Linked DNA regions of Homo sapiens: all the other regions are reported to be linked to region 1. The links are microRNA targets in miRTarBase. Many come from high-throughput screens and were not tested one by one. Region 1 holds a microRNA gene; each other region holds the end of a gene's coding sequence. Distances are between the middles of the regions.

Region 1 (3,348 bases):
TTGATCAGATTTGTAAATGTAAGCATTTTAAGACCTAATTTTTAAAAAATTAACCTTAGAATTTCTATAATGTATAAAATAAGGTTAACTATTTTGAATCTAACACAGAATTTATGGGCATTGCATGCCTTTTAAGCACTTATGTAAGTAACAAAGTTTTAGCTTTCAATGATGTAAAAATATCTGAATTTTCTTTAACTCTAAGGAATTATAGAACTATGCTAATAAAGCCTTAGAGGAAATGTTAAGTGATGATGAATAAAGAAAAAGAACATTGAAGAAAGAATGATCAGTAATGAGAAGTTTAGGATATTGTGTTGTGGTTCTTTAGCCACACACTGAAATAAACTGGGAGCTTTAAAAAACACACTGAGCATTAGGTCCCACTCTCAGAGAATTTGATTTAATTGACAGCAAGTTTTAAAAGCTCTTCAGGTAATTTTAAGGTGCAGCCAAGTTTGTCAGTCACAATGTAGAGTTCAACAAATGGAAGCTCATGACCAACAGGCTACAGTTACTGTGGAAGAGCTTACCATAGGACACATCTGTTACAGCTGTGAGCTCTGCAAAGCAAGCTGTTGAATGAATAAAAGGCATTAAGTTAAAAAAAAATACTGGTTGGAGCATGATTAGGAAGAGGTGGAGCCTTGGTTTAGCTCTGTTGAAGCATCAAGGTACTTATATCTCAAGTTTCATGATGAAAGATCAGATTGTAGATCTCTATGTGTAGTTGCTAGTTCATAGTGGAAAGTACTGAGCACTAGAAACTTCTAATTAGAGCTCATCTAACTGAAAGTTGTCAGGGCTCCCAGAACATGAAATTTTAGTATAATATTGGAATATTACAATCACGTCAAAAGCCAATGTGGCTGCAGTTTCATTATTGACAAATAATTAATTGGCAGATTAGTTGCCATGTTCATTTCAGAAAGCAGCGTGTTCTTTAAATAGGACATGAGTTTTCTGCTGCTCACATGGTTTGTTGACTCTGCTATAGGCATGTGGGATGGGGAAGTGCAAAAATTTGTAGCTTTCTGTGAGTTGGGTAAGTTTAAAGAGATGATAATCAGCATAAAGAGAGAAGAAACATTAAAGAAAAAAATTGATACATAGTCCAGAAAAAAATCAGAGGAAGTTAAAAAAGGGAGGTATTCCCAGAAGAAAGCCACTATTCATAAAACTTCATGCAAAAATTCATATGATTTACTGATTTATTGTTTGGGGAGCTCCTGAGAAAAGAGGACATTTTGCCCAGATCCGTGGCCTATTCAGAAATGTGGCCTGTGATTAGGCCGCAGATCTGGGTGAAATGTCCTCCTTCTGTGACCAAAGAAGGTGAGGGAAATACATCATCGTGGCTCTAGATCAGGGTTAGAAGTCAGAACTAGAAGGGCATAGAAAGTGCTGTAGTAAACAGCTCCAACAGTTTCAACTATATGCACCCTTAGTGTTAGCTAAGTTTTAACCAATGTTTGGATCTCTCTGAAATTTAAAAAAAGTTAAGATAATGTAAAATGATGATGTTAGAAACCAAAGGGAAGGCAAATACAAAATTAGAACAATTTTATAACAATCTTATAATGTGAATACTAAGCCTATTGCTGCAGACTTCTAGTGATCTGAGAAACACTGCTGTTTGCTCCATCATTTGCAATCTATAAGCCCCCTCACAGTAGTAAAATAGGAAACGCTGAAAAACCAAAGGTATTAGTTTCTTGTGGCTGCTGTAATAAATTACCACAAAGTTAATGGCTTAAAATAATAGCAATTGATTCACAGTTCTAGAAGTCAGCAGTCGGGAATCACTATCAGTAGGCTGAAAACGAAGTGTGACAGTACCATGTTCATTTTCAGAGGCTCCAGGAGAGAATCCATTCCTTGCCGCTTCTGGCTTCTGGTGGATGCTGGCATTTCTTATTTTTTTCAGTGGCAAGACCCCTCTTGTACGCCTTCACTCATGGCTCCTCTGGCCATCATCAAAGATAGAGCATAGCATCTTCAAATTTCTCTCTTTCTGTTGAGGTCATCACATCACCTTCTCTCTTCTCTTTGTGTTAAATCTCCCTCTGCCTCTCTCTTTTAACGATGCATTCATTATAGCGTTTGGGGCTCACCCACATAATGCAGAAAAATCTCTCCATCTTAAGATTTTTAACTTAATTATATTTGCAAATACCCTTTTCTCTTGTAAGTAAGATAACATTTACAGGTTCCAGGAATTTGGATGTGATATCTTTGAGGAGGGGCATTGTTAAATTGTTCAGCCTATTACAGGCCATCCTCTGGTTCCCAAGGATTCACATCCATCCCATCTGCAAAATACATTAACCCAATCCCAACATCCTCAAAGTCTCAACCCATAGCAGCATGAAATCAAGTCTCAACTCTCATTTATATATTTTCAATTCAAAAGTCCAAAATCTCATCATCATATAAATTATCTAAATCAGGTATAAATGAGACTCTGGATATGGACCAGGATGAGGCAAAATTTCTATCTGTGAACCTGTGAAACTAGAAAACAAGTTATCTTCTTCCAAAATACAATGGTGGGACAAGCATGGGTAACCGTTATCGACATTCCCATTTAACCGGGGAGGAAAAAGGAGGAAAGAAAAGAATCACTAATCCCAAGCAATTTTGAAATCCAGTAGGACAAATTCCTTCAGGCTTGAAGGCTTTGGCTCAGGCCTCTGCCCTCAGGGCCTGAGGCTCTACCCTCTGGGCTATCCTTTCTTTTTCTTGAAGGGTAGCACATGTTGCAGTTCAGTTTTATCAACCTATGCTGCCAGGTTCAAATTTTAAAGTCTTCCTCGAGCAGCAAGAAAAGACAAATTAGCTGTCTTTGGCTGTGTTCCTCTCAATAGCCATATCAGCAGTGCGTTCTATCTTCAGCAACGTCTTGCAAACTAAATTTGAGTATGAGGCTTTGGTTAAGATCACTGTGTATAAGATATGGCTGGCCAGGAGTGGTGGCTCATGCCTATAATTCCAGCACTTTGGGAGGCCGAGGCGGGTGTATCACCTGATGTCAGGAGTTCGAGACCAGCCTGGCCAACATGGCGAAACCCCATCTCTACTAAAAATACAAAAATTAGCGGGGCGTGATGGCACACACCTGTAATCCCAACTATTCGGGAGGCTGAGGCAGGAGAATCCCTTGATCCCAGGAGGTGGAGGTTGTAGTGAGCTCAGATTGTGCCATTGCACTCCAGCCTGGGCAACAAGAGAGAAACTCTGTCTAAAAAAAAAGAAGAAGAAAAAAGAAAAAAAAAAAAAAAAAAAAGAAAGACATGGTCAGCTCGATAGGCCACTTGGTGAAATGGCAACCAGCAATTTACAAAGGAG
Region 2 (3,000 bases), 160 Mb from region 1:
TCTTCAGAGGCATCACGGGACCAGGTCAAGGCGTCTGTGTGCCCCAGAGCCAGCCACAGGGACTGCGAGTGGGCTCTGGGAACGGGGGATATTCCTACCATTCTCATCCTCCAGTGTCCCTCATTTGAAAGGGACGCACACTGCACCCCCACTCTGCCTCACGCTGTTTGCTGTGTTGATGGAATGGGACAGAAGGGAGGCCTTGGCACGTTTGTTACCGAGCCAGTTGATTAAAGGGGGCTCTGAAGGAAGGGATCAAATGCCTTAAAAGTGAGAAGTCCCCACCCAGACCATCACCATGACACTGCCTTCTAGGTGTGAGAGAGCACTGTAAACCCCTCTGGGCTGGACCTGGAGTGTTTCCATGCATTCTCTGTGTTTCCGTTTCAGCGTGGGATCGAAGGGACAGTACCTTATGTCACAACGGATTACAATTTTAAACTTCCTGGAGCATCAGAGAAAATTGGAGCAAGAGAACCTGAGGAGGCACATAAAGAGAAACCATACCGAAGACCTAAGTTCTGTCGAAAAATGAAGTGATGCTCGCGTTTTTAATAAGGGAAGAAACTTTCCTACCAGAAAGCTTTGTCTCAAGCCTGACCACAAGAGACATGATGGAGTTTCATGGCCATGAATGGTGCCCTTATTAGCAACAGTGTTTTTTGTGTAATTCGTGAATGTCATATAGTAGTCTTAAGTTTCTCTTTTAAAGCTGCATGAGCTAGAATTTGTTCTAGTCTTCTGTGTGATACTCATACTTGCTGTCCAGAGGGAGTAAAACAGCAGAGAACAGTTTGTGTGCCATTAAAACAGAGATTCCTCAGAAAGTTCTTCAGGGACCTGGTTATTAGAATCAGGATAAAAATAAGGAAACTGGGGCCATTACAATGTACCGAGAAGGAAGGAAGAAGGCCGACCTGCAGGATCTCAAGCATAATGGATACAAGGGCTCGCCACGGGCCTTGCCTGAGCCATGTGCAGAGCTGGGGTCCAGCGGTCTGCTTCCTTGGAGCCAGTGTGGATGGTTACAGCCCATCCATTTGGTGCAGTTGTACTTGGTCTGTTATATTCAATCAAGGTTTAATAGATAGGGCTGGGCATGGTGGCTCATGCACACCTGTAATCCTAGCACTTTGGGAGGCTGAGGCGGGAGGATTGCTTGAGCCTCGGAGTTCCAGGCTGGAGTACACCAACTACTCCAGCCTGAGCGACAGAGTAAGACCTTATCTTTTAAAAAAGAAAAGAAAAATTTAAACGGGTTTGATAGATATAAATTTGGACCCAAGAGCCCTTCCTTTTTTTTAATCCTGAGGTTTTATGCTGAGGAAATTTCTTTCAAATCTGGAAAACCTCGGGGCCAGGCGCAGTGGCTCACGCCTGTAATTCCAGCACTTTGGGAGGCCAAGGCAGGCGGTTCACGAGGTCAGGAGATTGAGACCATCCTGGCTAACACAGTGAAACTCCGTCTCTACTAAAAATACAAAAAACTAGCTGGGCGTGGTGGTGGGCGCCTATAGTCCCAGCTACTCAGGAGGCTGAGGCAGGAGAATGGCATGAACCCAGGAGGCGGAGCTTGCAGTGAGCCGAGGTCACGCCACTGCACTCCAGCCTGGGCAACAAGAGCAAGACTCCATCTCAAAAAAAAAAAATAATAATCTGGAAAACCTCTTCTGGGGGCTCTTATAAAAGTAGATTTGTCCAAATTGACTTCTGATCTGAGGCCAGAGACAACCACAGGGCAGAGCTGGAGACTGGGCTGTTTTGAAGGAAGAAGGACTGGCAGACCAGCTCTTGGGAAAGCTCCATTATTGCCTGTGGGAGGCTGGACCTGAACTTGCACCTATGAACAACCCTGCCATTTAGAGCTTTTTCCTGGGGGTGCCGGCGGCTGGTGACCAGACTGCCATTCTCCACGTTCTCCCTGGTGCTTCCGACTCTGTCCTCTAGGTTGGAAGTGGTTTGTGTAAACGGGTGATGGGACCAGGTCACATCATTTCTGCATTTAAGACAGCAGGATACTTCCTGGGGCTGAGGTTCAAACTGGTATTGTGACCACCGCTTTGACAGAATTCCATCTTCCCAGCATGATCACATTGTAAGACTATTAGGATGTGTGGGTTTTAACACTTATATACACTTATACAACTGTTGGTTATCATTGTCTTTAGTATTTTACAGTGGCCCCTCAGCACCTCTTAGACCCAACAGCAAAGGACTTAAAATAAGCACAGGAAACCTTGCTATGGTGATTAGTTTTGATACCTTTGAGACAATTGAGTCTAGCTTCTTAGTTGCCCCTTATTTATGTTGAAATCTGGCTCATTCATATGATGTTTTACTGTGCTGGCCTTGTAAAGAATTTTAAGACAATCCATCACCATCAATGTTTTGCCTTTCTCCACTTTCGTGTATCTTACAGTTATACTCACTGGAGGTCATTTGCAGCAAGGCTCTGGAAGAATGAAACTGGTGCCCTGTAATTGCATTTGCATTCAATCTAGGTTTGCCTTCAGGCTTTAAATGCGGCCTGTATGAAGGTCAAGTCTTTTTCTTCAGTCCCTATCAGTAAAGAAAAATCGTTGCCTCTAGAGGGAGCTATCAGCTGTGGGTCAGGTGGCCGTACTGGGGCTAGAGTTGGCCCAGGAAGCTGTACAGGGTTTAGGGAAGGAGGTTCGGAGACAGGGAGCCAAGGCCTCTGTCAGGTCTAGCTTGTGCCGGTCAGACCTGCAGCAGCACCATTCTCCAGGATGACAATTCATCCCATTATTGATGGCAGTGGCCTTTTTATCCTTTTTTTTTTTTTTTTTTTTTTTTGAGATGGAGTTTCGCTCTTGTTGCCCAGGCTGGAGTGCAGTGGCGCAATCTGGGCTCACTGCCACCTCCGCCTCCCGGGTTCAAGTGATTCTCTTGCCTCAACCTCCCGAGTAGCTGGGATTACAGGCATGCGCCACCATGCCTGGCTGATTTTCTATTTTTAGTAGAGAAGGGGTTTCACCATGT
Region 3 (3,000 bases), 120 Mb from region 1:
CATCTCCACATGACAGGGAGGAAGCTTGTTCCCCACAACAGGAACCTCAGGGCTGCAGGTGCCCGCTGGACCGCTTCCAAGACTTTGCCCTGATTGATGCCCCAACGTTGGAGGATGAGCCCCAAGAGGGGCAGCAGTGGGAAATAGCCCTGCCCAACAACTGGCAGCGGTACCCAAGGACAAAGGTGGAGGAGAAGGAGGCTTCGGACACAGGTGGGGAGGAACCTGAGAAGGAAGAGGAAGACCTGTACTATGGGCTGCCAGATGGAGCCGGGGACCTCCTCCCGGACAAGGAGCTGGGTTTTGAGCCTGACACCCAAGGCTGAGATGTTTGTGCTCCGTAGCTTCTAGTCTGGAACTGCTGCTGACCCCTGTGTGACATCACAGGGCCTCAGTTTCCCTATCTGCAAAATGGGATGATATGGAGGTTCAATGAGATGGTGGCATTTTGAGAATGGTAAAGAAATACACAGGGAGGGGATGATGACTATTAGTGGACTCTTGTTTTTCCAATAGTTAGTGGTCTTTGGCCAACCTTTGAAGGCAAAATATGATTTGTTGAGGTTTGCAGCAGCTGAAGCCCTCAAAAGCATTTTCCACCTTCCCCCAAAGCTGACCTCTGAGAGGAACCTTCCTTGGTGCTCCCTCTGGGCCCCTGATCCTTTGTGAAGGCCAGTCAGGTTTCCCATTCCTATTGTGTCTTATAGTCCACTTGGTAGATGGCGTGATCCGTCTTTACACAGAGGGAGCCTCATCTCCTCCTGGGCCACATTCCTCCTGCAGCTCCCATCGCTCCTTGGCCAGGACCCAAAACCTTCTGTGACTGACCCCTGCTGACCTCATTCTCTCTGCTCCTCCAGTTCCAAGCCTAGCCCCCCTGCCCATCTTGCGGCTCACACTCTTGCCCAAGCTGTTCTCCTCCACCAGGATGCCCTTGGCTCCCTTTTCAGCTTGGCAAATTCGTGCTCACCCTTCAAACCCCTACACAGATGACCTCCCTTGGAAAGGTTTTCCTGATGTCGCTGCCTCCTGGAACCAGGTGGTCTTGCCTCTCTGCGCTGCCTTTGGGACCTGTATATTTGTCAGTGTGGCATGGCTGCCTGCCTCCCGTTGAAGGGCAGCATCTTGACTTTACTCACCTTGAGATCGCCTGTGCCCAGATGGGCCTTTGGCCTGGCCCAGAATCGGTGGTCATCAAGGGTGTACAGAACTCACCAGGACCCAGGAACCTGTTGCAGATAAAATCACTCTCCCCCACGTTCCCAACTTTTAGACTCACAGCCCTCTTACTTCCCAGCATTCAAACTTCTAAATGGCCTGTATGTATTCACAAAGCAGGCAAAAAGCCCCCAGAGGAACACCACCCCCCACCCCTGCCTCTGGAATACATTTGCTTTGACTTGGAATTGTAGGTGAAATTCATCTTCCTGGCCTACTTCAGTTTGAATCAGTTGGCTAGCCAGGTGCGGTGGCTCATGCCTGTAATCTGAGCATTTTGGGAGGCTAAAGTGGGTGGATCACTTGAGGCCAGGAGTTGGAGAGCAGCCTGGGCAACATAGCGAAACCCTATCTCTACTAAAACTACAAAAATTAGCTGGGCGTGGTGGTGCACACCTGTAGTCTCAGCTACTTGGGAGGCTGAGCTGGAGGATAGCTTAAGCACAGGAGATGGAAGTTGCAGTGAGCCGAGATCGCACCACTGCACTCCGGCCTGGGTGACAGAGTGAGACCCTGCCTCAAAACAAAACAATTGGAATTGGATGGCATTTAGTGAGCATCTACTATATGCCAGATATTGAGCTGTGATCTCTAGGGGTAAAGAGACATGAACTACTGACACCGTGCTTGCCTTCAGAGGGCTCACAATCTAGTGAGCTTGATTTCTGTGAGTGCAGAGCAGAAGCTGAGGTGGGAACAGAGAAGTAAAAAATGGACACACCAGAGGCAGAAGAGTGACAGCCTCCCAGCTGTTTGGGGCAGTTGAGTATGGTGGGGAAATAGCTCAAGCTGTCTTTGCAGCCCCTGAAGACATCACTGTACCCTATTGAACCATCTCAGGGTGATGCTATTGTTACGCTGATCCCTGCAACGCTTGCCTGTGCCCCAGCCCAGGATCCTGGCAGCTGCAGAGAAAATGGCAGTAACACTACCTCAAACCAGGACCACGCCCTCAGAGCCTGCACCCTGGGCCACCTGGGAGTCAGAGACCTTCACCTGGGCTATGGGGTTCTGGGTTGAGGCTGGGGTTCCCGGCCTAGGGAAGGGCTTCCGGGTTGAGGCCGGGGGTCCTGGCCTAGGGAAGGAGATGCCCCTGTGTGCTGGGTTACAAGGTCATGGCCCTGGGAACACACTTCCTTTTCTTTCTGGGTCATTTCTGCCTCTGCAGTGAAGGATGCCACAGGGTACACCCTCTCTGCTGTCATGACTCAGGACAGGAGTTCCTGGTCACAGCTGAGTCTTCGGATGAGGTGAGGGGTAGCATGCTCCTGTGCTCTGTTGCCTAAGGCAGGGCAGCCTACAACCCACGTTAGAAACAGCGTCAGCACTAAGGGCTAAAATAAAACTACTTTCAACATTTAAAGGGGTCATCTTCATTCACCTGCAAATTCTTTTCTTTAAAACCACCCCTTCCCTCGGGGCAGGATACGTGAGGCCTTACGCCTGACGGGCACCAGAGGCCCTCTTCCGGAAGTAAGCCCTCACTGCAGTGGCATGACCGTGGGGTGTGCTGTGTGGTGCTGAATCTCAGGAGTGATTCCCCACACCCCTGAACCACAACCGCAGTGGCTTTAGACTTAAACAAGAGCCTCTGGTTGCTGGGCCTGCCAGCAGGAAGATGGTAACCCTGTTCTAGAGTTAGCATCTGCAGGGGGCTTGGGGTAGTGGAGTGAGATGGTGAGACCCAGGCTTGGTCTCCCTGGCTCTTGCTGCATGATGGGGAGACCACACACCTGATCTGCCCAGGAAGGTCCCGGTTGACACCGACTGCCTCTGCTAAGT

What was found. The annotated mature microRNA hsa-miR-1295a reads UUAGGCCGCAGAUCUGGGUGA and lies in region 1 at 1,288-1,308, shown strand. An mRNA with a match to its seed (bases 2 to 7 or 8) in the 3' UTR can be bound and repressed. Matches are read on the target gene's strand: a 7mer-m8 pairs with bases 2 to 8, a 7mer-A1 pairs with bases 2 to 7 and ends in A, and an 8mer does both.
Region 2: the mRNA of NOL9 is a reported target of hsa-miR-1295a. The part of its 3' UTR that is shown has no 7-base or 8-base seed match.
Region 3: miRTarBase lists BSND as a target of hsa-miR-1295a. Seed matches in the 3' UTR shown: 7mer-m8 at 2,251-2,257.

What each region holds. Positions count from the first base shown.
Region 1 is chr1:171,099,698-171,103,045 of GRCh38, reverse strand. It overlaps MIR1295A (microRNA 1295a), which reads left to right and starts at 1,240; the gene lies at 1,240-1,318. The region is part of intron 2 of FMO3 (flavin containing dimethylaniline monoxygenase 3); the gene reads right to left. MIR1295B (microRNA 1295b) reads right to left here and starts at 1,307; the gene lies at 1,248-1,307.
Region 2 is chr1:6,523,394-6,526,393 of GRCh38, reverse strand. NOL9 (nucleolar protein 9) reads left to right here. Exons shown (of 12, transcript NM_024654.5): 12 at 391-3,000. The coding sequence ends at 540. Among named protein-coding and RNA genes, the nearest start is that of NOL9, 30 kb to the left of the region's middle.
Region 3 is chr1:55,008,303-55,011,302 of GRCh38, forward strand. It overlaps BSND (barttin CLCNK type accessory subunit beta), which reads left to right. Exons shown (of 4, transcript NM_057176.3): 4 at 1-3,000. The coding sequence ends at 326. Among named protein-coding and RNA genes, the nearest start is that of BSND, 11 kb to the left of the region's middle.